Linked DNA regions of Homo sapiens. The protein of the gene in region 4 purifies or fractionates together with the protein of the main gene of each other region. This does not show direct contact. Each region holds a gene or a part of one and is shown on either strand. Other genes may lie near its edges. The genes, in order: RPF1, TRIM71, CEP78 and ZNF324B.

Region 1 (6,847 bases), on a different chromosome or scaffold from region 4:
GTAAAAAGCTTAAGTCATACTGTAAAATAATAGGTCAAATTTTCTGAAGAGAATCTTGATTTGGATCACTGAACTCACCTGGTGCCTAAGAGTTGTATTCCAGCGTGCCCCAAATGTCAGAATCAAAACAAATAGGCAAAAATTGTATTAAGTATTAAAAGTAAGTGCTTTATTTTAAAATAACATATACTCTATTGGAAGTGGGCCTGGAAAATAATGGGCAATGAAAGAATTGGTGAGAGAAAGTGAACGGCTGAAATGAACCTCGTAAAGCACTCTACAGTGACCTCTATTCTTGTGTTTCATCTTCTTCTAAAATTGTACACTACTTAATGGCAAACATGATGCCTTTTTCTTCCACACTAGTTAGAACAGTCTCTGACACCAATAAATGGTAAAAATAGCTAGCTAGCATTTATTGAGTGTGTCTGGTTCTTTAATATACATCTTTACTCCTCTCTATACATCCTATGTGGCAGTATAATTAGCCCCAGTTTACAGACAAATTGAGACCCACAGACATTTTATGATTTAACTGAGATTTTATAGCATCTAAGTGATTGAGCCAAGATCTGAACACAACCCACCCTATTCATTTACAGAGTAGCATTTAATACATATTTGTTGAATTAATCAATGTTTTTGTGACTTAAGAATAAGGACTTATTCTGATTATAGAAATCCTTTCATTCAACTCATACAATTGTTATTATAAATACGGCATGAAGAAAAAAAAAGGAAGTCTAAGTTAAGGAGTTAATGATCTCATTTGTATGGTGCTTCTAAATAAATTTAACACTGTTATCTAAATCTATTTCAAAACTATTTTGTATTCTTATGAGAAAAGGAAATATTATATGTAGGGAGATAAAACGTTACAGTTAGAAGAGACTTTCAAAATATTTTCTCAGTCTGTATTTCCAGGATGGAGATTTACTTATTCCCCTTCTTCTTCTTCTCCCCCTCCTCTTGTTCTTTTATTTATTTATTTATTTATTTATTTATTTATTTATTTATTTTTAAGACAGGGTCCTTCTGTCACCCAGGCTGGAGTGCAGTGATGCAATCACAGCTCACTGCAACCTTGAATTCCTGGGCTTAAGCTATTCTCCCACCTTGGCCTATCAAAGTGTTGGGATTACAGGCATGAGCCACAGCCCCAGGACTACTCTTCCTTTTTGACTTGATTACCCCCCTTTAAATAAACTATATATGAAATTTTATGGTTTTGGGGTTTTTTTTGTTTTGTTTTGTTTTTTGAGATGGAGTCTCACTCTGTCACCCAGGCTGGAGTACAATGGCACCATCTCAGCTCACTGCAACCTCCGCCTCCCAGGTTCAAGCAATTCTCCTGTCTCAGCCTCCTGAGTAGTTGGGATTACAGGCAACTGTCACCACATCCAGCGAATTTTTCTATTTTTAGTAGAGATGGGGTTTCACCATGTTGGCCAGGCTGGTCTCGAACTCCTGACCTCAAGTGATCCACCCACCTCAGCCTCCCAAAGTGCTGGGATTACAGGCATGAGCCACCATGTCCAGATAAATTTTATGATTTACTGCAGCCAAATCTATATGTCAGTGATTTTAAAACTCAATGCTATTTTTTTCCTTTTTTTGTATTATATAACTTAAATCCAATTTTGGATCTAAACATAATGATTTTAAGTTTTTTAACAACAATTTTCAATTTGTGATCTAATAGCAGGTTTGGATGGAGCTTGTGTTCTGGAAGACACAGTTTTGATGCTTTTAATATCCTGCTGTTGTTAAATAGAATTTGAATGGGTGAAAAATGAAATGTGGACAAAAACATATTGGATTCTCAAAACACGAAATATAGATATTGGTACATAAAATTTGAAATTAAGGCAGATTCTGGAAAACTGACTCCTAACAGTAAATCAAAAGGGATTTCTTGTTGCTATTTGGAAAGCATTTTCATAAAATTAGAATGAAGAATACAGCAAATTTAACCACTAGGAAAACACTTTCTTCACTTGCCTTCCATGACATTCTACTCTCTTGATTTTCTCTTCTCCTTCTCCTTTGCTGGGTCCTCCTTTTCTTTCCATCTCTTCATGCAGGACTCCTCCAGGGTTCAGTCCTTGATCTTCTTTTTTCAGTTTTCTATCTACACTCATTCTAATGGTTTGAAATACTACCTATGTGCCAATTACTTCCAAAGTTTGATCTTTAGCCCACACCTCTCTGTCCTGCTGCAGAATCATACATCCCAACTGACTAGTTGACACCACCAATCAGATCACTAAAAAGTATCTCAAACTTAACATTTCCAAAACTGAAATCTTGATCTTACCTCTCAGATTTGTTCCATCTGAACTTTCCCGCATTTCACCTGATGGTAACTCCATCCTTTGAATCACTCAGGTCGAAAGTCTTGGAGTCATCCTTGACTCTTTCATGTCCTCCCTTCAGTTCCATCAGTAACTTTACCTTCCAGAGGAATCACTTCTCAACCACCTACACAAGACTTACCCTGGTTCAGGCCACTATCATTTCTTCCCTTCTTCCACACACCCTGCCCCTGCATAGGCTCTTCTCAAAAGAAGATTCTGAATGACGCTTTTACTTTATTTTTATTTATTTTTTTGAGAGGGTCTCACCCTCTCACCCAGGCTGGAATGCAGTGGCACCAACATGGCTCATTGCAACCTAGCCTTCCAGGCTCAATGGATCCTACTGCCTCAGCCTCCTGAGTAGCTGGGACCACAGATGTACACCATGCCCAAACAGATATATATATTTTTTTACTTTTTGTAGACATGGGGTCTCACAGTGTTGCCAAAGCTGGTCTTGAACTCCCAGGCTCAAGCAATCCTCCTGCCTTGGCCTCCCAAAGTGCTAAAATTACAGGCATGGGCCACTGCACCAGCCTGATACTTTTAAGATGTTAAGATCATACCATTCTTTTCCTCAAAATTCTATAAGAGATCTTCATCTCACATAAAATAAAAGCCAAAGTCCTTACAAAACTCTACACCACCTGTCCAATCTCAACACTTCTTGCCTTTCCTGGCTTGCTACTGACTAGGAGCATTGGAGCTGGCTGTTTGCTTTGCCAGGACAGCTTTTCTCCTTGATAACCAGCTTTTCTCAGATTAACAGCTCTTCCCTCAGATAACTAGTTTAGCCCATTACCTCCTTCAAACCTTGGCTCAATGTAACGTTTTCAATGAAGCCTACTCTGAGAATCCTATTTAAAATTGCAACGTACTTTGGGAGTCCAGGGCGGACAGATCACCTGAAATCAAGAGTACAAGACCAGCCTGGCCAACATGGTGAAACTCCATCTCTGCAAAAATACAAAAATTAGCCGGGCATGGTGGCACGTGTTTGTAGTCCCAGCTACTCAGGAGGAGGAGTTTGCAGTGATCGGAGATCGTGCCACTGCACTCCAGCCTGGGCATTAAAGCAAGGCTCCGTCTCAAAAAGATGAATGTCTCTTCATCTTCTTTTATCCTGTTCTATTTTTTTTCCATACCATGTCTTACTCTGTAGCTCACCATAATTTATTTGTATGCTCATTTTAGGTTTCCCTCAAGTAAAACGTAAACTAATCCAGGCACGGTTTTTGTTGTTGTTCCATTATTTTGAGGGCTGGGCACATAGATGCGCAAGGAGTGCCCAAACTCATCATCTCACTCTTTATACAGCTGGGCAAACTGCCTAAAGTTTCCTCAAGCCTCAGCTTTACTATTTTCTTGAATGGCTAAAACTCACAAAACACATCTAGCGTCAAAAACTTTGCGACCCCGGAAGTAAAAGGTTAAGGAAGGGGGTCACAGGAGAAGGCTATTTCCGTTTCCGTACGGAAGCAAAGGAGCCAAGACCATGGCGAAAGCCGGGGATAAGAGCAGCAGCAGCGGGAAGAAAAGTCTAAAACGGAAAGCCGCTGCCGAAGAACTTCAGGAGGCTGCAGGCGCTGGGGATGGGGCGACGGAAAACGGGGTCCAACCCCCGAAAGCGGCTGCCTTTCCGCCAGGCTTTAGCATTTCGGAGATTAAAAACAAACAGCGGCGACACTTAATGTTCACGCGGTGGAAACAGCAGCAGCGGAAGGTACGCGAGAGGCGGGGGCTGCCGGGCGCTTGCGCGTTGTTCCTGACGCTTAGGGCGGTCGCGGGGCGCACATCTGTGGTTGTCTGCTGGTCTCAAAAGTGTTCTCTGTGGCTCCGTGGGAAGGGTGGCGTCGCGGCCCACGTGTTCTGGTCCCCTCGCCCTAGTTTGGAGACTCTAGGTTCAGCCTTTTGCCTGAGCGTCAAGGTGGAAGATTATCTTGATAGGCTCTTTCCTGGGACGCTAGATTCACAAGGAAAGCTGTAAGGCCAGTTGGCTTAGTAGTGAAAACTACGCCCTCCTGGCCCAGAAGGCAAAAGTCTCAGCCCTTTGGTCCGTCTAGGTAGCGTTGGTTAATTTGCAGAATCTGAAATGGAGGCAATACGTAATAAATCCAAAATACTGCTTCTCTGATTCCTGCAGGAGCTCCTTACCGAAATTAGTACTGTAAAGTTTCTGGTAATTGTATTTGTTCTTTTCAGCTTTATCCTTATACGTTTCTGGTAGGTAAACAAACTGAAACGTAAAGAGGTTTAAACGACTTGTCAAGGTCGCAGTGCTCATTTCTGGTTAAATTGCAATTGGAAGAAAACGTTTGCTTATTCTTGCACATCGTAGAAGTTCACACAATATTATTATTATGTGTCTGCCTCCTCTTACTGGCCCTTCTGAGGCCCGGGACTGGTTCTTACTCATGTTCAGTGTCAAGGTGCTGTTTCAATACATACAAGGGGCGTTTAACTCATTCTGGTATGCACGTATTGGGGAGGGATGTCCTGGAAGACTTATTGGAGCTATGATTTCTAATCTGAAACCTGGTGGATTGAGGATCAGTAGGTGCTGGGGAAAAAAGAATATTTTTTATTTTGTCAAGCATTCTATCTAGAAATCTCCAGAAGAATATATAGATTGACAATACAAATACAGATAATCTTAAGCCACCTTGCAAGCTCTTACTAAATTTTAGAAGTATATTTTGATTATAAAATATGTGAATAACTGGTGATGGTTTTATGGAAAACAACCTGAAAACTCAGCTCCCATTCCTATTTTTAGTGCTTTTCAAGAGAAGCAAGCAGCATAACCATGGTCGTCTTTAGGATGCCACCAGTTAGGCAAAACAAAACACAGTGGAAACCATCACATACTTTAATTAATTTGAGGCTTTATGGAAAAAGGTTAAGCTACTCAAATTTTAAATGTTCAAACTTGCCAGTTTAGATTTTTTTAAAGGAGCAGGTCTTTGTTAAAGAAATCTTATTGATTGGCCAGCTCATTTGGCTTACAGTAATTTAGGTAGAAAACTCCACGTCCAGATGCTTATTTCAATAGATTACAAAGACCGCCCAGTTCGAGTATTCATAGCATTAGTAATTTGTAGTTTCAGTATGTGTTTGTGATATAACTGGTTGTTTCTCAGTATTGTTCTCTTTTTTTTTAACCCTTTAGGAAAAGTTGGCAGCTAAGAAAAAACTTAAAAAAGAAAGAGAGGCTCTTGGCGATAAGGTAAATAAAATTTTTAGCTGTTTGCTTTCTATCTTATATTAGGGAATCCCTCCTGATATTTAAGTTGAATTACTTTCTTTTAAAATTTATTATTACGTATTTCAGATGTATGAAGAAATACAAAAGTAATATAATAAACCTCTTTGTATCATTTACCCAGCTTAAGAAATAATGCATTAGCAAAGAATGTTGGAAGCCCCTCGTCTGCTTCATAATTGCTTTTCCCTCCGAAGATAACCACTCGTGAAATTTTTGATTATTTTTTCCATGCACTTCTTTTACCTTTACTGTGTATGTTTGTGTACCTATACGGTAACACAGTGGTGGTATTTTGCATATAACTTTGTGTTTCAGAGGTCAACACCTCTCCCTGACTTTGGGAATGGGGAAGCTCCCCCAGGTTAGGCCTGGAGCTTGGCTCTTGTCATGTGAAGCAAAGATTTTTGGTCAGGCAAGGCTGGGGAAAGGCAGGACAGATCCTCTTCTGGAGTAGGGTGATAAGGGTGTGTTAAGCTTTAGAGCTGGTACAGAGGATATGAACCTGTGAAAAGTGAGAATGGGGAGTGGGAGGACGGTGAGGATTATGGCAGAGAAAAGAGCAGATAATGCATCAAGAAAGAATTTGGCTGTATTTGTGGTACTCATAAGAAGTGAAATCTTTATTGAAAAAATTTTTTAAACTACTAAATGCTCATACATTATTGCATAGCTAAGTTATTTTTATTTTCAGTGTATTTATAGTTACTCCTAGGTTGTGATTTATTTTTGCAAAATTTTGAAAACATTCATGTCTCCGCCTCCCATTCAAGTAAGTTACCAAATAAGGGTGTTTGAGGAAGGGAAAAAAATGTAAAGACAGTATACAAACTAAACACTCTACTATTTCATACATTCTTTGAATAGTATTAGGTTAAACCATAGAAAATTGTCAATAGTAGACTGTTTTGACCTGCAGTATCCTAGTATGTCAAGCATGTTAGTCTCTTTTTAATTCTTTTGTAATCAGTCTATTACAGCAAATTAATGTTATGATCACCATTTGAAAACACCACCATTCTTGTTTTTTGAGATGAAAGATAACTTCTTAAAATTGCCTCCTTTAAAAAATGCTTAAAATGTAATATTTGTTTCATAGAGTAATAAATGCTAGTTTCAGTTTGTATTTTCTTCATAGCTCTGCTAGTGTACATATATTTTGAATTAGTTTTAATGTACTCTTACAATTCTGTGTTCTACTTCTTAGCAATTCATTTACACCATTTCT
Region 2 (7,027 bases), on a different chromosome or scaffold from region 4:
CGCTAGAAATTTGAGATTAAAGGTGACAAACCAGTGTTCTGAGTAGAAGACTAAAGTGTTAGGAGAGACAGCACTAACAGGTAGTGAGGTTCATAAACGGTTCCACCTACAGCTTAAATAATTCCTTTTCTTTTGATCTCGTTAACAGTTTGAGAATATTGTTCCTTTAAAAAGTCATCCCTCTCTGGCTGGGAAGGAGCTTTAGGACATTTTTGGAGGATGATAGACTGACCCATATCTGGACTGCGATACACTGAATGCCTAAATCCACATATTTTAATGTGTATACTGTCTACCTCAATTTTTAAGATGAGCTCCTTAACTGAGTTGCTTCCCTTGTCCACAGGCTCCGTTAAATAATTCAGAGTAGCACCTTTTCCTTATAGTGACTCAGGCCACCTGACCTTGGGAAGGAGGCCCAAACACCCTACCCCAGCCTGCAGGGTCTCTCGCCCAGGGGGACTTTCTTCCTTAAGCATCCCCTTGTAAAATGCCTTCTTAGGATTGGCAAGTAAGGTGTCTCGTCTGAGCAATTGGCTTTAAACCGTAATGATGATAACCTGGAAATCTTTGGGTTTTCCAACGAAATAATGAGACGTACTTGCTGCTACTCTTTTATTTTGGCTTATTTCAACAACATAGTTGGGGCTTTTCACTAGTTCTGTGCCTCCAGAGTCCGAAAGGCCTGCAGGCTCCGTGGCCCAGCCGGCATCCGGGCGGGGAATCCAAGGCGAGGAATCCGAGGTCGCCGTCCCCGGAACAGCTGGCCGCGGGCCCGCTGCGTGCCGCGGGTCCCGGGAGAGGCGGGCGCAGGTAGAGTCGCCGCGGGCCTGCGCCGCCGCCCGGCCAGCCCGGAGCCTGCCTCGGCTCTGGGGACGTGGCCTGGCCGGCGGCTGCTCTTCTCCCCGCAGGCACCCGCTGGGGTATTCACGGCCGCTCTGGTCATGGAGTAGGGTCTTCGCTTGAGTTTTGGGGGAAGAGTTTCACAACTAGGGAGTTGTGAGCGCTGCTCCAGCTGCTCACAAGTGACCCTTTAGTGTTGTTTTGCTTTTGGCACATAGAACGTGAGCCCTTTGCAGCCTTGGAGGCGACACCGGCAGCAGAAATGCTGGGTGTGTTGTGTGCCTAAGCTGGGCGTCAGGATTCTGTGAATGGCGGGAAGTTGAGCAGGGTTTGAACCCAGGAAAGCCTCTGTCACTAGCGGTGAGGGGCAGTGGGGGTGACATTGTTGCCACCTGGAAAACATTGTAGCCCGCCCCACCCGAGGATGGCAATATTGTTCCCAGTTAGGCAGGTCTGGGGGTGGCGTTTTCTGGAGTCTGGTTGGAAAAAGGGGTGCAGGTGTTGGTAGAATCCATGCGGTCCCTGTGTTGGGCTTTAAAATGCCTCCTGAAGAGAAAAGTTCTAGAATTCCAACTTGATTTGACCCTGAACATTGAGCACTCCTGGGACTGTCTCCTGGCAGGAAACTTAAAGTGGCTTCAGTCACTTGGAACAAGGAGGTTTGCTGCCTAAAATAATCGGTTGCTGTGTGAATTTGTTTTGTATATTTTAAGTCATATTGTAAATGGGACTGTACCTGTATTCAGCACCAGTGTATATTATTCTCTGTTCCCAAAGTCTAAGTTTTTTCAGGTCTGCATATACTCAGTGTATGCATGCTTATTTTAAATTATATTCATGTTCTTGCATAAATTATAAAATCCATACCAAAATATTTTTAAAAGCATAATACAAATTTTCCCACTTACACTGCATGTCGAAGTAATTCTCTTTTTAAGGGTGTGAAATGTAGGTATAGCTAAAGAACCACTTTCCTATCTTTTCCGTCTTTAGAGGCGATCAGATGTAACTAAGTTGGTGAAATTTATGATAAACTTTGAGAATTTCTACAAGAAATTGGCATTTTAATTGGAATCCGATTGATTCATATTAATTTCAACAAATTTTTAAAAAAAATTTTTTTAAAGGAAGGACAAGGAGAGAAAGTGAACAGAAATGGGTATTCTAGTATTTCTGTTACCTGCTTTCAACCTGCTCTACACTACTGGGTGAATATGTCCTCTGAGTGCAGACATCTCACCTACTGGCTGGAAAACCAAACCTAACTGCCTTGAAAATAATTACAGAGGTTGCTGCTTTGAATCCAGTTCAGCAGGTAGACATTAGGAAGCCTACTGAATTCAGAAAATGCTTGATAAAAATATATGGGAGGGAAATGTTCGTTATTGATATGTTAATTGCTTAGCCTTTGTGGGCTTAAGGTAGTTCCATTAAAGTGCATAGGAATGGATTTTTCAACATGGACCCTCAGGAAGTGGGCCACAGCTAGTTTGGCAAGCCTGTGCTGATGAGGTTGCCTTGAAGGCATAACCTGTCATAAACTGTGCTAGTAGTATGGAGGCTGTTGTGGTATCAGCACTGTCTGGGAAACCTTTTGTGATTATTTGTTCAGTTTCCTTCCTTTACAAAGATAAACTATAGTGGTTTTAGTGGTTTGGGGATTGCATAGATTTGATACAAGATTTTTATTTCCAATTCTAGGAATATACATTTTGGAAGACAAGATATTTGGGGAAAAAAACGTTACTTTTTCTAGACTTCCAGTTCTTCATTTGACAACGGTATTTGTTCTTTATCATTGACATTGTTTTCAAAGTGAAATAGTTGTACTTGAAATGGGGAAACCCAGGAGGCGGAGGTTGCAGTGAGCCGAGGGTGCAGTGAGCCGAGATCATGCCATTGCACTCCAGCCTGGGTGACGGAGCGAGACTATCTAAAAAGATACAGGGAAATCTTCCTAAAAGTGTTTGAAGAGGGTCAGGCGTGAGCCACCGCGCCTTTGGGAGGCCGAGGCGGGCGGATCACGAGGTCAAGAGATCGAGACCATCCTGGCCAACATGGTGAAACCCTGTCTCTACTAAAAATACAACAAAAATTAGCCAGGCGTGGTGGCGCGTGCCTGTAGTCCCAGCTACCCAGGAGGCTGAGGCAGGAGCATTGCTTGAACTGGGGAGGCGGAGGCCGCAGTGATCCGAGATCGTGCCGCTGCACTCCAACCTGGGCAACAGTGAGACTTGTCTCAAAAAAAGAAAAAAAAAAGTGTTTGAAGATTAGGTAAAAATTGCCATTTCCCATCTAGTTCTCCCTCCCATTGTATTATAGCTACTTACTTAATACTTTTATTTAGTCCTTTTGTTTTTTTCTGAGATGGAGTTTCACTCTTGTTATCCAGGCTGGAGTGCGGTGGTGCAGTCTTGGCTCACTACAACCTCCACCTCACGGGTTCAAGTGATTCTCCTGCCTCAGCCTCCCAAGTAACGGGGATTACAGGCGCTCGTCACCTTGTCCGGCTAATTTTTTTTCTTTCTTTTTTTTTTTTTTAAGTAGAGACGGGGTTTCACCATATTGGCCAGGCTTGTCTCTAACTCCTGACCTCAGGTGATCCACCTGCCTCGGCTTCCCAAAGGGCTGGGATTGATTACAGGCAAGAGCCACCGCGCCTGGCCCTAGTCCTTTTCTTAAGGCTGAGTCTCACTCATCCCAGGCTGGAGTGCAGTTGTACAGCTCCTTAAAGCCTTGACTTCTCAGGCTTAAGAGATCCTCCTGCCTGTGTCTCTCAAGTAGCTGGGACTACAGGCTCTAGCCATCACACCTGGCTAATTTTTGTAATTTTTGTGGAGATGGCGTTTCGCCATGTTGCCCAGGCTGGTCTCAAACTCCCAAGGTCAAGCGACCTGCCTACCTAGGCCTCCCAAAATGCTGGGATTTCAGTCATGAGCCACCTCGCTGGGCTAGATAGTCCTTTTCTTTTCTTTTTTTCTTGAGATGGAGTCTCGCTGTGTCACCCAGGCTGGAGTTCAGTGGCGCGATCTTGGCTCACTGCAACCTCCGCCTCCCTGGTTCAAGCAATTCTTCAGCCTCAGCCTCCCAAGTAGCTGGGACTACAGTCATGTGCCACCATGCCTGGCTAATTTTTGTATTTTTAGTGGAGACGGTGTTTCACCATGTTGGCCAGGCTGGTCTTGAGCTCCTGACCTCAAGGTGATCTGCCTAACTCGACCTCCCAAAGTGCTGGGATTCAGGTGTGAGCCACTGTGCCTGGCCCTTAGGTAGTCCTTTTCTAGAAGGATCTCAGGAGGCTTAAATGTCTAGTTTCCTCAAGTACTACTTAATATGGATGCAACTTTCTCCTCACATGTAAAATTATGAGCATAATTGGGCTTTATGTCTTTTCACTGAAAAAAGGAACTAATAATCGTGCATATATAGTAAGGGAGTTAGCTCTTGTGGAAGCTGTCAATGAAGTTAAATGGCTAAAACGCTTTTTTTTAAGTGGTTTGCCAGGGTAAAACGTGTTTATAAATTTTTCTGGTTCAAGAGAAATTTTCATTAAATAATTCTGTAGCTCTAAAATTTAACCCCCTCTGAGTTATTTCTGGTGCTAAAAGTCACATGGTTTGCCATTTCTCCATCCAGTTCTCTACACAGGGCAAGGTTTATTTTGTCTGTGTTCATTCTTAGCAAATAAAGGACCATTTCAGTGTCATTTTTGACAGGCAAAAGGGTGAGATGAATTCTATACTATGCAGGCAGTTTCAAAATACTGCTTCCCCCCTTCTCCCACTCCCACCCATAAAACTAATAAAGGTTAAAGGCCTGGCTCACTAAGGCTGTTTTTGCTATCTCTGACATTTTGGAAGCGAGCAAGAGAAAGATAATGATAAAGAATTACAGTTGCCTTAAGGGAGCAAGATGCCACCCATTGAAGCCTACTCCGTTACCGCTTTTCTTCTTGACCTTTCAAGCATTGTGGCTTGCAAGAGTAAGCTTGATCCATCTTTCCTCTAAAGCTGATGTGACCTCCTGCTTGTTCAATACTAAATTATTCCCCTCCTTTTGAGGTTTTGTCTATACTCACAAACTGAGTTGACTGAAACCAGATTGACTGTTTTGATTGACAAGACTCTGACTTGTCAACCTAAAAAGTGGGAGGAGTAGGGGGCCTAGTGGTGTCCCTTTACATTTGAAACTGTTTGACTTAAACGATATTCCAAAGTAAATCTTTGCCTCTCCCATGCCATCTCTTGCCTTCCTCATGCTGTAGATAAATGCAGTTTGCTTACAACTGGCTTTGAAGGTGGTAGAATGAAATGAAATGGGGGAAGATCCCACTCAACTCCCATCCAGGCAGGGTGCGGTGGCTTACGCCTGCAATCCCAGCACTTTGGGAGGCTGACGTGGGCAGATCACATAAGGCCCAGAGTTCGAGACCAGCCTACCAACATGGTGAAACCCCATCTCTACTCAAAATACAAAAATTAGCCGGACGAATCCCAGCTACTGAGGCTGAGGCAGGAGAATCACTTGAGCGTGGGAGGCGGAGGTTGCAGTGGGCCAGGATCATGCTATTGCACTCCAGTCTGGGCGATAGAACAAGACTATGTCTCACAAACAAACTCCCATCCAAACCTGAGTTTTAGAGATACTCATATTAGACTTAGGCTAATAGTTTTTTTTGTCATCCTTACTGTAGATTTTCTACTAATCCTAGATGGTTCCTAACCAGAACTTTAATTCCCATCAGGTGAGTTCTTTTTTTTTTTTTTTTTTTTTTGAGAGGGAGCTCTGTCACCCAGGCTGGAGTGTAGTGGCACCATGTTGGTCAGGCTGGTCTCAAACTCCTGACCTCAAATGGTCCACCCACCTTGGCCTCCCAAAGTGCTGGGATTACAGGTGTGAGCCACCACACCCGGTCAGGTGAGTTTTGTGTTTTGTTTGTTTTTTTGAGACGGAGTCTTGCTCTGTCCTGTCCCTGAGGCTGGAGTGCAGTGGTGCGAACTCAGCTCACTGCAAGCTCTGCCTCCTGGGTTCACGCCATCCTCCTGCCTCAGCCTTCCCAGTAGCTGGGACTACAGGTGCCTGCCACCATGCCCGGCTAATTGTTTTTGTATTTTTAGTAGAGACGGGGTTTCACTGTGTTAGCCAGGATGGTCTTGATCTCCTGACCTCATGATCCACCCGCCTCGGCCTCCCAAAGTGCTGGTATTAACAGGCATGAGCCACCGCGCCCGGGCTATGAGTTTGTTTTTAGTGAAGCTATAAATTATCAGTTGGCACAAAAAATTAGCAGTCAGTTGTATTTCACTCAAAAACAATTTTCCACATAGAAGTAGTAGTCTTTAGCAATAAAAATACTGTTTTCAGTAATTATGTTAGCATATTGAAGTTGTGATTATTGGGAATGAGGTCCTTTGTCATGAAGGGTAGGGGGATAATTCTTTTTTTTTTTTTTGGGTGGAGTCTCACTCTGTTGCCTAGGCTGGAGTGTAATGGTGTGATCTCGGCTCCTTGTACCTTCTGCCTCCTGGGTTCAAGCGATTCTCCTGCCTCGTCTCACGAGTAGCTGGGATCACAGGCATGCACCACCATGCCTGACTAATTTTGTATTTTTAGTAGAGATGGGGTTTTGCCATATTGGCCAGGCTGGTCTCGAACTCCTGACCTCAGGTGATCTGCCGCCTCAGCCTCCCAAAGTGCTGGGATTACAGGCGTGAGCCACCGCGCCTTGCAAGGGGGGATAATTCTTGATTGTGATCATTTATCTATAAGAGCTTCTGCAGAATAGCACATTTTGTCAACATTAATAGGTTTTAAAGCAGAGCAGTGGGCACAAAAAAGAATAAAGTGGGTGCAGATCAGTTGTGTAGACTGAGGACATACCCTCCTGGTTCTGACACCCTGTGAATTCCAGGGGCCCTTGAATGGACCTTGGAGCCTGAGTGGTCAATCAGGTCAGGCGCCTCTGAGAATGAGAGCCTTTGTAAACATCTGTTGGCTGCTGCATCCTGTAGCTGTTACTTCTGGAAAGTTTGGCCAGCCATTTTCTTCTCGTCTTAACCTTTTGCAGTTAAAATGTTTTTCTTGAAATGCCAGTGGATTTGGGGAAGTCGTTTCATACTCTTTTGGGACTAATTGGGATAATTATTAAAATGCTGTTGTATAAAAAATCTGCACTTAAGTTTTG
Region 3 (7,027 bases), on a different chromosome or scaffold from region 4:
TTACAGAGTTGAAAAATAACTCTACATAAAACATCACAGAATGAATATTTGTTCATAATTAACAAGGATGCTAGTGGCAGTGTAAACATCACAGGCAAAAACTGGGTGGAGCTCAGAAATTGCACTAGATTCATCATCAAATTCAAATTCAAATTCCAAGTGACTCTCAAAAAATTACATTAAAAAAGTGAAAAGAAAATACAAAAATGTAAACTGTTAGTTTTAGAATAAAAATGACAAAGAAAGAACTCTAAGGAGATAGAAATAATGAATCCAAAGAATGTGTGAATAGAGATTATAGAGATTATATACTAAAAACCTATCATGAAAAAATAATGGTCAAGAACTCTCTCTCAAGTAAAAGGTCAAAGAACTAAACAAATGCTCATGAATACTAGTAATACTGAGGCTGAACAATCTACTCATTTCAACTCAAAAGGATTATCACAAAAGTACAGGCATAAAAAAAGATTACATCAGAGCAAAAGCACGTGTATACCATTACATTAAAATAACTGAAGTCTTTCAGAATCTCATTTTATGGACTACATGTCTGTATTCCCCAAAAATGTATATTGAAACCCTAATCCACAACAGGGTAGTAGTATTAGGAATTGGGGCCTTTGAGAGGTAATTAGGTTTAGTTGAGGTCTTGAGAGTGGAGCCATCATGGGATTAGTGTCCTTACAAGAAAAAAAAGAGACTAGAGTTCTCTCTCGCCACCATTTAAGGATATAAAAGCCTTCCATAAGCTAGGGAGAATGCCCTCACCTGACACCTATCTACTGGCATCTGGATCTTGGGCTTCTCGGACTCCAGAACTGTGAGAAATGAATGTCTTCTCTTTAAGCCACCCAGAATATAATTCTGTTATATGCTTCTATAATGGAGTTATATAATATATACTATATATAATATAGAATATTCTATGAAGCCCTAACTGACTAAGACACCACAAGACACACAGAAATAAGTCAGATATATGGATCTGATAGAATATGGTAAAACCTTTACAAACTCTTGCTGCAGAAGAATGAGCATAGGATGTAATTATCCACCTAGCCAAATTAATAAAAATAGCCAGTAAATCTCACTAGTAAATCAAATGAATATAAACTAAAACAATTAAATGTGATTATGCTTCTATCAGATTGGCGAAGGTCACATTTTAAAAAAACCTTTAAAATGTGCAGACTCTGTTAACACAGCAACTCTCCTTCTAAGAATTTACCAGAAGGAAATTATAAGAGACACGGGCAACAACACGTATCAAAGTACTGTTTATAACAATGAAAAACTGGAAATAGCTTATATATCTAATAGGAACGGATAAGCCAAGTGTACTATTGCATATTAACATAATGGAACCCTGAAGAGTCACTAAAAATGACATGGTAAATGTAAACTTACTGATTTAAGATATGCTAGACTGAGTGAAAAAAGCTGTAAAATTCAGAGACCAATCCCATTTGCATCAAAAAAGAAAAAGCAGGGGAGTTCTCATTTTTGTAAAGTTTAAGGTTTTAAAATAGACACAATCCAGCATTTATGAGACTATAATATGGCACAGCATTTCTGAAAGGCAATTTGGTGACATGCATCAAAAGTCTTTAAGAAATACATTATACTGAGTTACTCAACTTTAGTAATTTATCCTACAGGAGTAACTTCAGGCTGGGCACAGTGGCTCATGCCTGGAATCCCAGCACTTTGGGAGGCCAAGGCAAGAGAACTGTTTGGGCCCAGGAGTTTGAAACTAGCCTGGGCAACACAGCAAGACCCTGTCTCCACAAAAATTAGCCTGGCATGGTGGTGTGCACCTGTAGTGCCAGCTACTCGGAGGGTATAGTGGGAGGATACTTGAGCCAGGAGTTTAAGGCTACAGCGCGGTATGATTACACCATTGCACTCCAGCCTGGGCAACAGAGAAAGACCCTGTCTCAAAAAAAAAAAAAAAAAAAAAAAGTAACTTCAATGGACACAGAGATGTATACATAAGGAGTTTACTACAGAGTTGTTTATAACAGGGGAAAAGCACAAACTGCCTAAATATCAAATAGTAGGGAATTAAACTATTATGCCTCAATATAATAGAGTACTACATGATACATCATTAAATAAAAAAAGCAGGGTTACAAAATGGTAAGTGCACTATAGTTCTGTTCTTGTAACTCTAAGCACACAAATGTATCTGCAGGAAAAAACAATACTGAAAGTGTATACACCAAAATGAACAGTTTATCTCTAGGCATTGAGATTATATGTACTTTTTTTTTTTTTGTTACTTGGTATTTTCTATAAAGAATATATATAACTTTTATAAAGGCTTAAAAACAAAATAAAACCTATTAGAAAAAAGAGGCTTTTTAAAAAACCTTCGGACAACATTACTGTGCCAAGAGTTAAGCATATTTAATATCAAAAAATTCAATATTTTCCACCTTACAAGTTCATTTAACTTACCTCTCAGCCATAAATCCTCACTGAGAGAGTCTGCAAAAGCACATGCACCTAGGTCACCAATAAGTGTGTTGCAATTCAGTGTGATACGTCTTAAGCCAGCCATACAGTCAAGATCAGGTCTCCTATAGCGAAGACTCTCAGCCCAGGTTTCTTCATGCCTTCTCATGGTCTGATACTTCAAAGATTTAATAAGATGAAATTAATACACTTGGATAAAGAGATAGGAACACTAAAAGGAACTAAGTACAGCTGATTACATCAGAGCTTTACACACACACCAGGTACATATGCCAGGTGGGTTAATCTGACAGACTGATTAAATAGTAGATTTTGAGTAAGGAGTCCAGTGACCCAGATACTAGTCTGTCACTGACTAGCTATGTGACCCTAACCACTAATGACCTGTTACTGATTGCTTTATGTAAACTGACAACTTAGTTAACTTCTAAGAATTTTATTTTCTTTATATGCCAAGTGAAGGTACTGGTTCTAAATTCTATCATTGCTGAGCCTCTAAATCATATCATTCTGTCCTCCAGTGGTCTCTAAACACTTGACTGGACATCCCACAAGTAAACATTTAACATGTAAGTTATTTATTAATAAACTATATACAGGAATTTCTATATACATATTTTATGTATATTACAAATCAAACAGAAACAATAGGTATTTTTTAAATGATACAAAAATATAGAGGTTAATATTTTCTTCTCCTAACCCAAGGGATCTCACATATTTCTTAGGGTATGCACACCAAATTTAGAGGCCTAGAATATACAAAGCAAGGTTGATATGCCTTCGGAAATTGGTGGTTTGAGTTTTAACCACAGGTATTATCTTACAGACATAATCACTTCTCTTTATCCATAAAGTAAATTTCGGTAACAGGAAACACTGATTTTAAGAGAAAAAAAAATCTCATTACATTCTGAAACAAAAGATTCAAAGCTCCTATGACTCCGTCAAATGAAAACTGTCAGTGTCATTTGCTATTCATAATAACTGTATAAAAGCAATAAGAGGAAATAACAGCAAACACTTAGATAGCCAGGCACTATTTTATACACATTAGTTCATTAAATCCTAACAATGACAGACACAGTAGGTTTTCTTATTATACACATTTTATGGATAAGAAAACTGAGGAACAGAGCGGTTAACTAATTTGCCCATGGTCACAAGTTATTAAATGGGAGAGAGCTCGGGTTTTAGCCTAGGCCATCTGGCTTCAGAATCCACATGAGTAACCATTATCTATCCCACGGAGAGTGGGCTTACGCTGTAAAGGCCCCAAAATAAACATTTTCAGCTTTGTGGGTCATATAGTTTCTTTTGCAACTACTCAACTCTCCTAGTGTAGGGTGTAGCAATAGTTAATATGTAAACAAATGGGCATGACTATGTTTCAAAACTTTATTTACAAAAATAGGTGATAGGCTAGATTTGGTCCACAGGCCATAGTTTGACTACCCCGATCTACACCATCAAATTACTAAAAAGGCTTCATGTCACATTATTATGTAATTTTATCCTAAATACAGTAGTAATAACCACTATAAAGTTGTTAAGGCACCTTTAAAATTACTGTTTTACAAACTGTATTTACAGAAAAATCTAATTATTATATTTTAGGTCTTCTATTTCTAAGATTAAGCATACTACCTTTAATAAATGGTAGAACCCCAGGCTGAAAATTGGTCACATTCTTTAAACAAAACTAAAACTGCAATGCCCATATGTATCAAAAGACAAAAATAACTGCTGTCTTGTATCAAAATATTAACGTGTGGCAATCATATAACACATTTTCATGAAAGTTGGAACATAAAGTTACCTTTAAGATCTTGGCCATGTGATCTGCTCCCTGCCATGTCAGATTACATCCTGTGAAGTTGACTGTCTTAAGAGTGATAGAGCTCTTTATACCTTGACAAATAACTAAAATGGAAAAAAAAACCACATACAATAAGATGAAGAGCATATACAACCTAGTCAGTCTTGATTTATTTGCTCTTCTTATATCTTTTCTATTTTATAGTTGTATTCTTAAAATCACTATTTACAATCTACCTAAGCAACTGATTGGTACATTCTAAAATAAGTCAGTAACAAAGAGTTACTCCAGTTTATTGCAATAGTTCAATTCTATTTAGATGCCAAAATTGAATAGACTGAATATTGCAACCTTACTCCAGACCACAGTAAAGTTCTATATACTTTTTGAGACATCTGAAAGAAAAACATAAAAAAAATAAAACTCTTCCTATTTTCATTTCCAAGAGCAGACCTCAATCTGTTATTAACCAACAATTCAGTGTCAACTATAAACCCAGAATTTTATTAGGTGTTATACTAGAGCACCTAATGTACTAGAACAATAGAAGACAGAGGCCTTTTAACTCTCTGCTCCCTCAAATTGAAATGCAGGTTTCCTTACCCCTCCAGACCACTATTTCACACAACGAACACAAGACTTCAGGATCCCAACGAACAGTCACCTTCTGTGACTATTTCCATGATCCCAACCCTTTCCCCCCAAGTCTGTCAGCCTTTTATATGCTCCTATACAGCACTTTGCTTATATTTCCTATTTTGGAACATACCACAGTGCATTAAAATTGATTGTATATATGTTTTAATTATTTAAAGTAATGATGATTTTTTTTTTTTTGAGACGGAGTCTTGCTCTATCGCCCAGGCTAGAGTGCAGTGGTGTGATCTTGGCTCACTGCAACCTCTGCCTCCCAGGTTCACACCATTCTCCTGCCTCAGCCTCCTGAGTGGCTGGGACTATAGGCACCCGCCACCATGCCTGGTGAGTTTTTTTGTATTTTTTTAGTAGAGATGGGGTTTCACCATGTTAGCCAGGACAGTCTCAATCTCCTGACCTCATGATCCGCCCACGTCGGCCTCCCAAATTGCTGGGATCACAGGCGTGAGCCACCACGCCCGGCCTCTTTACATTTTGCTATTTCCTTCCCATAAATATTTCTTGAAGAAAAACTCTAAAAGATGAACAAACACAAAAAACAGAGAATACCAGATGGTATATATTTGTGTGGTCTGTGGTTTAACACAAACTTAAGTAAAGTTAGTTCAGATTACATTCAGCATGCCAAGCTTTCATGGTAGACTTGAGACTGGACCAAGGTTTGAACAAGCATATGAGGCAGTAGTAAGAAAAAAGGTACAGACAGGAATTAACATGGCATGTAGGGAAACATGAAACCAGCCTGATAGGACAAGAGTTAAATGAGATTTAAACTCACTTTCTAAACCTCCATCTCCAATTGGACAATTTGCAAGAGACAGGTGCACCAAAGAAGCCGATTTATTCAATCCCTTTAATGAGGGGGAAAAGTTAAAAATGTTATTGAGGTTTTTTTTCCTCTAAAAGCAACTATCAAATGTCTACAAGCCAAATGAGACAAAGCTTACCTTTGCTAGAATAGTTAAATCCCTCTCTCTCAGAATTAGTCCATTTAGCTCCAGGTTCTTTAGCACACTTGATATACTTAAACAGCCTTTAAGAGCTTTACACAACTGGAAGGTCACATCTTTGTATCTTATCGCAGGAACACGACTTCTGCAAAATTTATTCATGTCAGAACCTAAAACAAAGATAAAAGAAAGTTAGTGACTTCAATCATACAATGTATCATTCAAAAACATCTGCTCTGTGCTAAGACATAGAAATGAGCCATGTCCTTTAAAGTCCTCTTAAGCACAGACACATGTAAACTCAAGCCACATGGGATATACCAAACTATGTACATAGAGGTTCTTATGGAAGCAAAGAAGTTGCACTGAAAGGATGGCTTCAAGATAATCCTGAAGCTGAATCTAGAAAGATGAGAATGACAACATGGGGTGAGAGTGGGTGATGCATTAACCAGAGGGAGCAGCGAGAGCAAAGGCATCTAAGCCTGACACCTGCCGGGCACTGGAAAACTGCAGGTGGATCCGACTAAAGCCCAGAGCCGTAGCCGGAAGAGTCAGAAATTTACAAAGAGGCAGGGAGAAGCAAGCCTAGGAGAGTTCACTTTTACCTCACAGGTGATGAGGATCAGGGCTACCACTGACACATTAAGGATACCCCTAGCAGGTTAGAAAAATGTGCCTCACTGTTGGAGTATCAAAGAGATAAAGGAAATGAGAAAAAGCTCCCCTTCCTCAAGACCAACTAACCCCAGGAGGCTTAACAGAACACAGCTGAGATTTCAGTGCCTCTGTGCAGAACACAAGCAACCAATACACACTGGTCCTGCGTGGGCATGCCACTTTAAGCATGTCTTTTCCTTTTTGAAAGATCACTTGAACCAAAGTAGGCAGATGAACTGAGAAAAACCAAGCTCAACGGCAGCAAAACTAGCTAGGAGCGTCTGCAATAGTCCAGGCAAAATGTAATTAAGGATGGACAAGCAATATGTAGGAGGTTAAAATCTACAACCTAGACCCACTAGATGCAAGAGATAAAGAAGGTTCAGTGAAGAATATCTGACGAGAATGGTCTGTAATACATTTTTCTTACATTCAGTGCAAAATATTAGGCAAGATCTAG
Region 4 (6,954 bases):
ACATGGTGAAACCTCGTTTCTACAAAAAAAGTAAATAAAATTAGCCAGGTGATATGGTTTGGCTGTGTCCCCACCCAAATCTCATCTTGAATTGTAACTCTCATAATTCCCACACGTTGTGGGAGGGACCCAGTGGGAGATAAGTGAGTCATGGGGGCAGTTTCCCCACACTGTTCTCGTGGTAGTGAATAAGTCTCAAGAGACCTGATGGTTTTATAAGGGGTTTCCTCTTTTGCTTGGCTCTCATTTGCTCTTACCTGCCACCATGTAAGACAGGGCTTTCACCTTCTGCCATGATTGTGAGGCCTCCCAGCCACATGGAACTGTGAGTCCATTAAACCTCTTTGTCTTCATAAATTACCCAGTCTCAAGTATGTCCTTATCAGCAATGTGAAAACAGATGAATATAGTAAATTGGTAGAGTGGGGTACTGCTATAAAGATACCCGAAAATGTGGAGGCAACTTTGGAATTGGGTAACAGGCAGAGGTTGGAACAGTTTGGAAGCCTCAGAAGGAGATAGGAAAATGTGGGAATGTTTGGAACTTCCTAGAGACTTGTTGAATGGCTTTGACCAAAATGCTGATAATGATATGGGCAATGAACTCCAGGCTGAGGTAGTCTCAAATGGAGATGAAGTTGTTGGGAACTGGAGTAAAGGTGATGCTTGCTATGTTTTAGCAAAGAGACTGGTGGCATTTTGCCCCTGCTGTAGAGATTTGTGGAACTTTGGATTTGAGGGAGATGACTTAAAGTATCTGGTCCGGGTGCAGTGGCTCACGCCTGTAATCCCAGCACTTTGGGAGGCTGAGGCAGGTGGATCATGAGGTCAGGAGATCAAGACCATCCTGGCTAACATGGTGAAACCCCGTCTCTACTAAAAAAATACAAAGAAATTAGCCTGGCATGATGGCGGGTGCCTGTAGTCCCAGCTACTCAGGAGGCTGAGGCAGGAGACTGGCATGAACCTAGGAGGCGGAGCTTGCAGTGAGCCAAGATTGCAACACTGCCCTGCAGCCTGGGTGACAGAGCAAGACTCCATCTCAAAAAAAATAAAAATAAAAATAAAGTATCTGGTGGAAGAAATTTCTAAGCAGCAAAGCATTCAAGAGGTGACTTTGATATTATTAAAAGCATTCAGTTTTAAAAGGGAAATACAGCATAAAAGTTCAGAAAATTTGCAGCCTGACCATGCAACAGAAAAGAAAAACACATTTTCTGTGGAGAAATTCAAGAAATTTGCATAAGTAACCAGGAGTCAAATGTTAATCGCCCGGACAATGGGGAAAATATCTCCAGGACATGTCAGAGACCTTTGTGGCAGCCCTTCCCATCACAGGCCCAGAGGCCTAGGAGGAAAAAATGGTTTCGTGGGCTCCCCCTGCTGTGTGCAGCCTACAGACTTGGTGCCCTGCATCCCAGCTGCTTGAACTATGGCTAAAAGGAGCCAAGGTACAGCTTAGGCTGTGGCTTCAGAGGGTGCAAGCCTCAAGCCTTGGCAGCTCCCATGTGGTGTTGAGCCTGTGGGTGCACAGAACTCAAGAACTGAGGTTTGGGAACCTCCACCTAGATTTCAGAAGATGTATGGAAATGCCCAGATTTGGAGCAGGCAAAAGTTTGCTGCAGGGGCAGGGCCCTCATGGAGAACCTCTGGTAGGGCAGTGCTGAAGGGAAATGTGGGGTTGAAGACCCCACACTGAGTCCCCACTGGGGTACTGCCTAGTGGAGCTGTGAGAAGGGGGCCACCATCCTCCAGACTCCAGAATGGTAGATACAACCAACAGCTTGGACCACGCACCCGGAAAAGTCACAGACACTCAACACCAGCCCATGAAAGCAGCTGGGAGGGAGGCTGTACCCTGCAAAGCCACAGAGCTGCAGCTGCCCAAGACCATGGGAACCCACTGCTTGTATCAGTGTGACCTGGATGTGAGACATGGAGTCAGAGGAGATTATTTTGGAACTTTAAGATTCGACTGTCCTGCTGCATTTCAGACTTTCGTGGGGCCTTTAGCCCCTTTCTTTTGGCCAATTTCTCCCATTTGGAATGGGTGTATTTATCCAACGGCTGTACCCCAATTGTATCTAGGAAGTGACTAACTTGCTTTTGATTTTACAGGCTCATAGGAAGAAGGGAATTGCCTTGTCTCAGATGAGATTTTGGACTGTGGACTTTTGAGCTAATGCTGAAATAAGTAGACTTTGGGGGACTGTTGGGAAGGCACGATTGGTTCTGAAATGTGAGCACGAGATTTGGGAGGGGCGAGGAACAGAATGATATGGTTTGGCTGTGTCCCCAACCAAATCTCATTTTGAATTGTAGCTTTCATAATTCCCACATGTTGTGGAAGGGGCCCCAGTTAGAGGTAACTGAGTCATGGGGACAGTTTCCCCCATACTATTCTTGTGGTAGTGAGTAAGTCTCACGAGATCTGATGGTTTCATAAGGGGTTTCCTCTTTTGCTTGACTCTCATTTGCTCTTGCCTGCTGCCATGTAAGACGTGCCTTTCACCTTCTGTCATGATTGTGAGGCCTCTCCAGCCACGTGGAACTATGAGTCCACTAAACCTCTTTTTCTTTATAAATTACCCAGTCTCAGATATGTCTTTATCAGCAACGTGAAAACAGACTAATACACCAGGCATCGTGGCTCCTGCCTGTAGTTCCAGCTACTTGGGAGGCTGAAGTTGGAGGACTGTTTGAGCATGGGAGGCGGAGGTTGCAGTGACCCGAGTATGCACCACTGCACTCCATCCTGGGTAAGAGAGTGAGACCCTGTCTCAAAAAAAAAAAAAAAAAAGTAAAAAAAAATTGCTTGAAATGTTAATAATGCCTCTAAGCATTTGATTAAATCACAATAGTACTTAAGTGTTCTTAAATTCTTTCAAAGCAGGAAAAATTTAAATAAAAACATTCAAAAATTGTCGAGCTATCTTACACTATAGGGATCTACAAGTAGAATCAATTCTGTGGACAGTTATAGCTGACAGTAGACAGATATTTATAGATGGAGGTGGGTATAGAGGAAGACAAAATGAATTAACGTACTTGACATCTGAGAACTGTCTAAGGATCCTAAAAACAAGACCCTCACAGGGAAGCAACAAAGAGAGAATCGTTTATTCTCTGCCAACAACATGGTCAGTCTACATTGAGACTGCCCTGCCTTTTGTTGTTATGTGTCAAAGACACTTAGATTGGTCCAGAGAAAAAAGGAACAAAGCATCCATGTTGTGATGTGTGGGGCAAAGCAAGAACTAGATGGTCTAAGGACAAGCAAGGCTGGGGAATTACCTTCTGCTCGTCCAAGTTACAAGGAAAACAAGTTTTGGGCGAGCGTCCAAGAACAATCACAGAATCAAGACAAATGACAAGCGGGTAGTGTCATTACAGGCTGAGAATTCTTGGTGTAGAGGTTGAAAAACGGACCTTAAACCTTTACGGGACACTGACACACAGAGAGATCAAACCCTCGCCCAGGATGCACAGTCAGTGAGATGCAAAGCTGGGAAGGGAACCCGGAGCTCCAGGCATCTGCTCCTCCACCTACACCTGCCCTACCCGGTGCGTTTTCTCCTCCCTGCTACCTGCTGGTGTTGCCTTCTGGAACCTCCGCAGTTTCTGCTTTCACACCTGCAGGGTTTAGTCTCCAGGGCTGCTTAGGTGGGTGCCAGGAACTGGGAATCCCCAACGCGGGACAACCTGCCGGGCGACTCAACCAGTGCCACGGAGCCCTTGGAAACCCGCGGCAGCTGCGCTACTCCATTTCCAGGCGCCCAGCGCGGCGGCGCTTAGCCGTTGCCATGGAGACTGGTAATGGCCCCGCCTCCGCGCCGAAAAACAGGCAGGAACCACATAACCCAGAAGGCTGTGCGCAAGCGTCTGCGCGCGTATTGGGGCAATGTGAGCTCTGGGGGCTGGACTTCCGGCGTTGGGACTGTCACTTGGCTGCTCGCGTCAGGCCACACCGGTGGTCTGGGCTGTGGCGCGCGGGTCGGGGCCCGAGGCGGGCGGCCAGGAAGGTACGGACCACGAGCAGCCGGCCGCGCCCCCAAGCCTCGGTATCTTCGAGTATGACGTGGTCGGCCCGGGGGCGGTCGGGCCCCGGCGGGAACCACGCGTTCTCCCGCCCCGCGGAAGCCCAGGAGGCAGCGCATTGGGCATTCTGCGCCCATGACTGCCGGGCAGGCTGAGGCGCGGGGCAGCCGCGGGAGGCTGCTGGCGGGGATGGCGGTCCCGGGTGGTCCATGCCTTTCTTCCCTCCCAGTTGCGGGTTCCGCTGGCGGCGGTGGCGCTGACAAGCCCGCGCCGGGGGGGCGGGGGAGTCCCTGCTCACACAGACTGCGCCCCCACGGAGTGAGGCCGCTTCCTAGACCTCGCCTAGTCGTCTTTCCTCTCCCTGCCCTGGGGGGGTTGCGGGGGTCAGTGCAAACTCCTGCGTCCAGGGCACTGGTGAGCTCCCGACTTCCGGCAGCCAGGGGGCTGAGGTCCCGAAGGAGGCTCCGAGGGGAGAGTCCTGCGTGTGCAAAACCTGGGAGGGGAGCCGAAGCCCAGATGCTTCTGGGACTGAGCGCTCTCGATGTGGAGCTGGAGTAGAGGGGATGTGTGCGGCTGCAGTAGCAGGCGAGGGAGTGGGCTTTATCTCGAGGGCGTCGGGAGACATAGAAGTTTTGAACAGAATCAGGACATCCTCTGAGTTGGGACTTTAAAACGGTTCCACCGTTTGTTGCGTGGAGAACAGACATGCAGGGGTGTCGGCATGAAGGGAAGAACCGACTGCCACAGTCTGGGCAGCAGTGGAGGTGGGCGACCAGGTGAATTCTGGTGGATCTGCGGATGCATCAGGTGTGGGCTGTTTGAAGAACTAAGTACCCCATGTTGTTCAGCCTGAGCGCCTGGAAGAAGAGAGCTGCTGTAGATAGAAAGGAGAATTGAAAGGAAAGCAGGTTTCCTTCAGGGGAAAGATCAAGAGTCTGGGATGTCCCAGGTTGGTCATGTCACTGGACCTGACGTTGTTGGTGTCCTGGGCTGAGGACAGGGCCTATAAACTGGACTGAAGAAGGCGATGAGCAGTCAGGCGTGCGGAGTTACAGCTTGAGGGTAAAGAAAACCGGCTGGGGTGCCTGAGGCTATCAGGGGAGGAGTTCGGCAGGTGGCTGAATAGGAGAGGGTGGCAGCAATGTGGGAAAGAAATTGCGGGAGCGCTGAGATCGAGACCATCCTGGCTCACACAGTGAAACCCGGTCTCTACTAAAAATCCAAAAAAATTAGCCAGGTGTGGTGGCGGGAGGCTGAGGCAGGAGAATGGCGTGAACCCGGGAGCCGGAGCTTGCAGTGAGCCGAGATTGCCCCACTGCACTCCAGCCTGGGTGACGGAGTGAGACTCCGTCTCCAAAATAAAAATAAATAAATAAATAAATAAATAAATAAATAAATAAATAAATAAATTGAGGAGGGGGCGCCATGTGGAGGGAGGAAGGGATTGAGTTCCCCTGTGTTCACAGGTTCTTGGGGCTGCACCCCTATGACGACTGGTGGGGATCATCCAGTCCCTCAGGCTGGATGAGCAGCCTGGAAATGTCAGGCAAGCGCAGCAGGGGAAGGTCTCAGTGATGGGCATGCCTGGGGGGTCCACAGCTGGGACTTACACCCTTGCTTATTACAAAAGCAAGAAGGGCACATCTGGGGAGGGTCATGAATGGTCATGCTGAGTCACGAGTGGATATTTGGGGCTGCCCTTGGTGTGGCAGCTAAGGGCCCAGCCAGGGCTTGCTCTAGCCTGCTTGTGTAGGGGTGGCCAGTGGGGAAGTCAAGAAGCCATCTGGGGCCTGGACCAGGAGGGCAGAGGGGAGGGGTCCCAGACAGGTGAGGGAAGTGCCACCTGAAGATAATCTCGGGGTGGAACCCAAGGAAGGAGGGACACTGGGGGAGGTGACTGTTGGGATGGGGAGCTTGGTCCTGGCTCACAGCCATACCTTAGACCATGCCTACCTCCACCTCCCTGCTGTTTTAGGACCTGATGACCTTCGAGGATGTGGCCGTGTACTTCTCCCAGGAGGAGTGGGGGCTCCTGGACACAGCGCAGAGGGCCCTGTACCGCCACGTGATGCTGGAAAACTTCACACTTGTGACCTCACTTGGTAAGGCCCTGGGTGCTCCATGAAAAGTGCACTTGGTGACAATCAGGACTGCCTCTTCACTTCCCTCCTGGTTGATGAGCAGGATCAAATCTGGCCAGGGCCACGTGGAACAAGGGTCTGGTCCTGTAGACACAAAGTTTGGTTGGGTCAGCCACTCCTTGCCGCCCTGTCCAGCTGTGGCCTCTCTCATGCCTGGGCTCAGTCCCGTTGCTTTGGTGCTCTGGGCACAGTTGCTGCTCTGGGGACACATGAGCTATTCCTATGAGCCCCTTGCCCTGTGCTATCTTTAGATTCTCCCAGTTGCACAGATTACTGTCTATTTCCATGAAGCCCTGACTCCTGCTCTCTGTTGGGAGGTGGGTTGTCTTGACCTGGGGCTGGGCTCTCACCTGCTCCTCCTCACAGGACTCTCTACCTCCCGACCTCGTGTGGTCATTCAACTTGAGCGTGGCGAGGAGCCCTGGGTTCCCAGTGGAAAGGACATGACCCTGGCCAGGAACACCTACGGGAGGCTCAACTCTGGTGAGTGGGAGCTCAGGTGGGGTGAACTAAGGACCAACCTGTGGCCAAGCCCATGTCCCTGCTTTTCTGACTCTGGAAACACATCCTCCTCTCCTGCCTCCTACCTGACTCCCTTCTCTTCCATCATCAGCCTCTCCTGGAGGCTGCTGCCTTAGTAGGTGCCCTTGAAGGGAGAGCTCCAAGGGCACAGGAGCTGGGTTCACACAGAAGGGCCTACCTTCAGCTGGGCTGTGTGGCCTTGAACCCTCCACAACTAGCAGCCATTATTGATAGGTATTTATTTCGCCCATCA

The links.
Region 1: the proteins of ZNF324B (region 4) and RPF1 purify together in Homo sapiens (affinity purification with mass spectrometry; 2 studies listed by BioGRID and IntAct, with this or other methods). This does not show direct contact.
Region 2: the proteins of ZNF324B (region 4) and TRIM71 purify together in Homo sapiens (affinity purification with mass spectrometry; 2 studies listed by BioGRID and IntAct, with this or other methods). This does not show direct contact.
Region 3: the proteins of ZNF324B (region 4) and CEP78 purify together in Homo sapiens (affinity purification with mass spectrometry; 2 studies listed by BioGRID and IntAct, with this or other methods). This does not show direct contact.

Annotation. Positions count from the first base shown.
Region 1 is NC_000001.11:84,475,430-84,482,276, forward strand, and holds the start of RPF1 (ribosome production factor 1), read left to right. Parts: upstream 1-3,836; 5' UTR 3,837-3,852; coding exon 3,853-4,080; intron 4,081-5,526; coding exon 5,527-5,583; intron 5,584-6,847.
Region 2 is NC_000003.12:32,820,988-32,828,014, forward strand, and holds part of TRIM71 (E3 ubiquitin-protein ligase TRIM71), read left to right. Parts: intron 1-7,027.
Region 3 is NC_000009.12:78,239,073-78,246,099, reverse strand, and holds part of CEP78 (centrosomal protein of 78 kDa), read right to left. Parts: intron 6,078-7,027; coding exon 5,905-6,077; intron 5,809-5,904; coding exon 5,736-5,808; intron 4,405-5,735; coding exon 4,301-4,404; intron 2,639-4,300; coding exon 2,464-2,638; intron 1-2,463. UniProt on the Homo sapiens protein: Centriole wall protein that localizes to mature centrioles and regulates centriole and cilia biogenesis. Involved in centrosome duplication: required for efficient PLK4 centrosomal localization and PLK4-induced overduplication of centrioles.
Region 4 is NC_000019.10:58,447,683-58,454,636, forward strand, and holds the start of ZNF324B (zinc finger protein 324B), read left to right. Parts: upstream 1-3,939; 5' UTR 3,940-4,022; exon of another isoform or gene 4,023-4,071; intron 4,072-4,113; exon of another isoform or gene 4,114-5,100; intron 5,101-5,504; exon of another isoform or gene 5,505-5,584; intron 5,585-6,013; coding exon of another isoform or gene 6,014-6,019; coding exon 6,020-6,140; intron 6,141-6,545; coding exon 6,546-6,662; intron 6,663-6,954. UniProt on the Homo sapiens protein: May be involved in transcriptional regulation.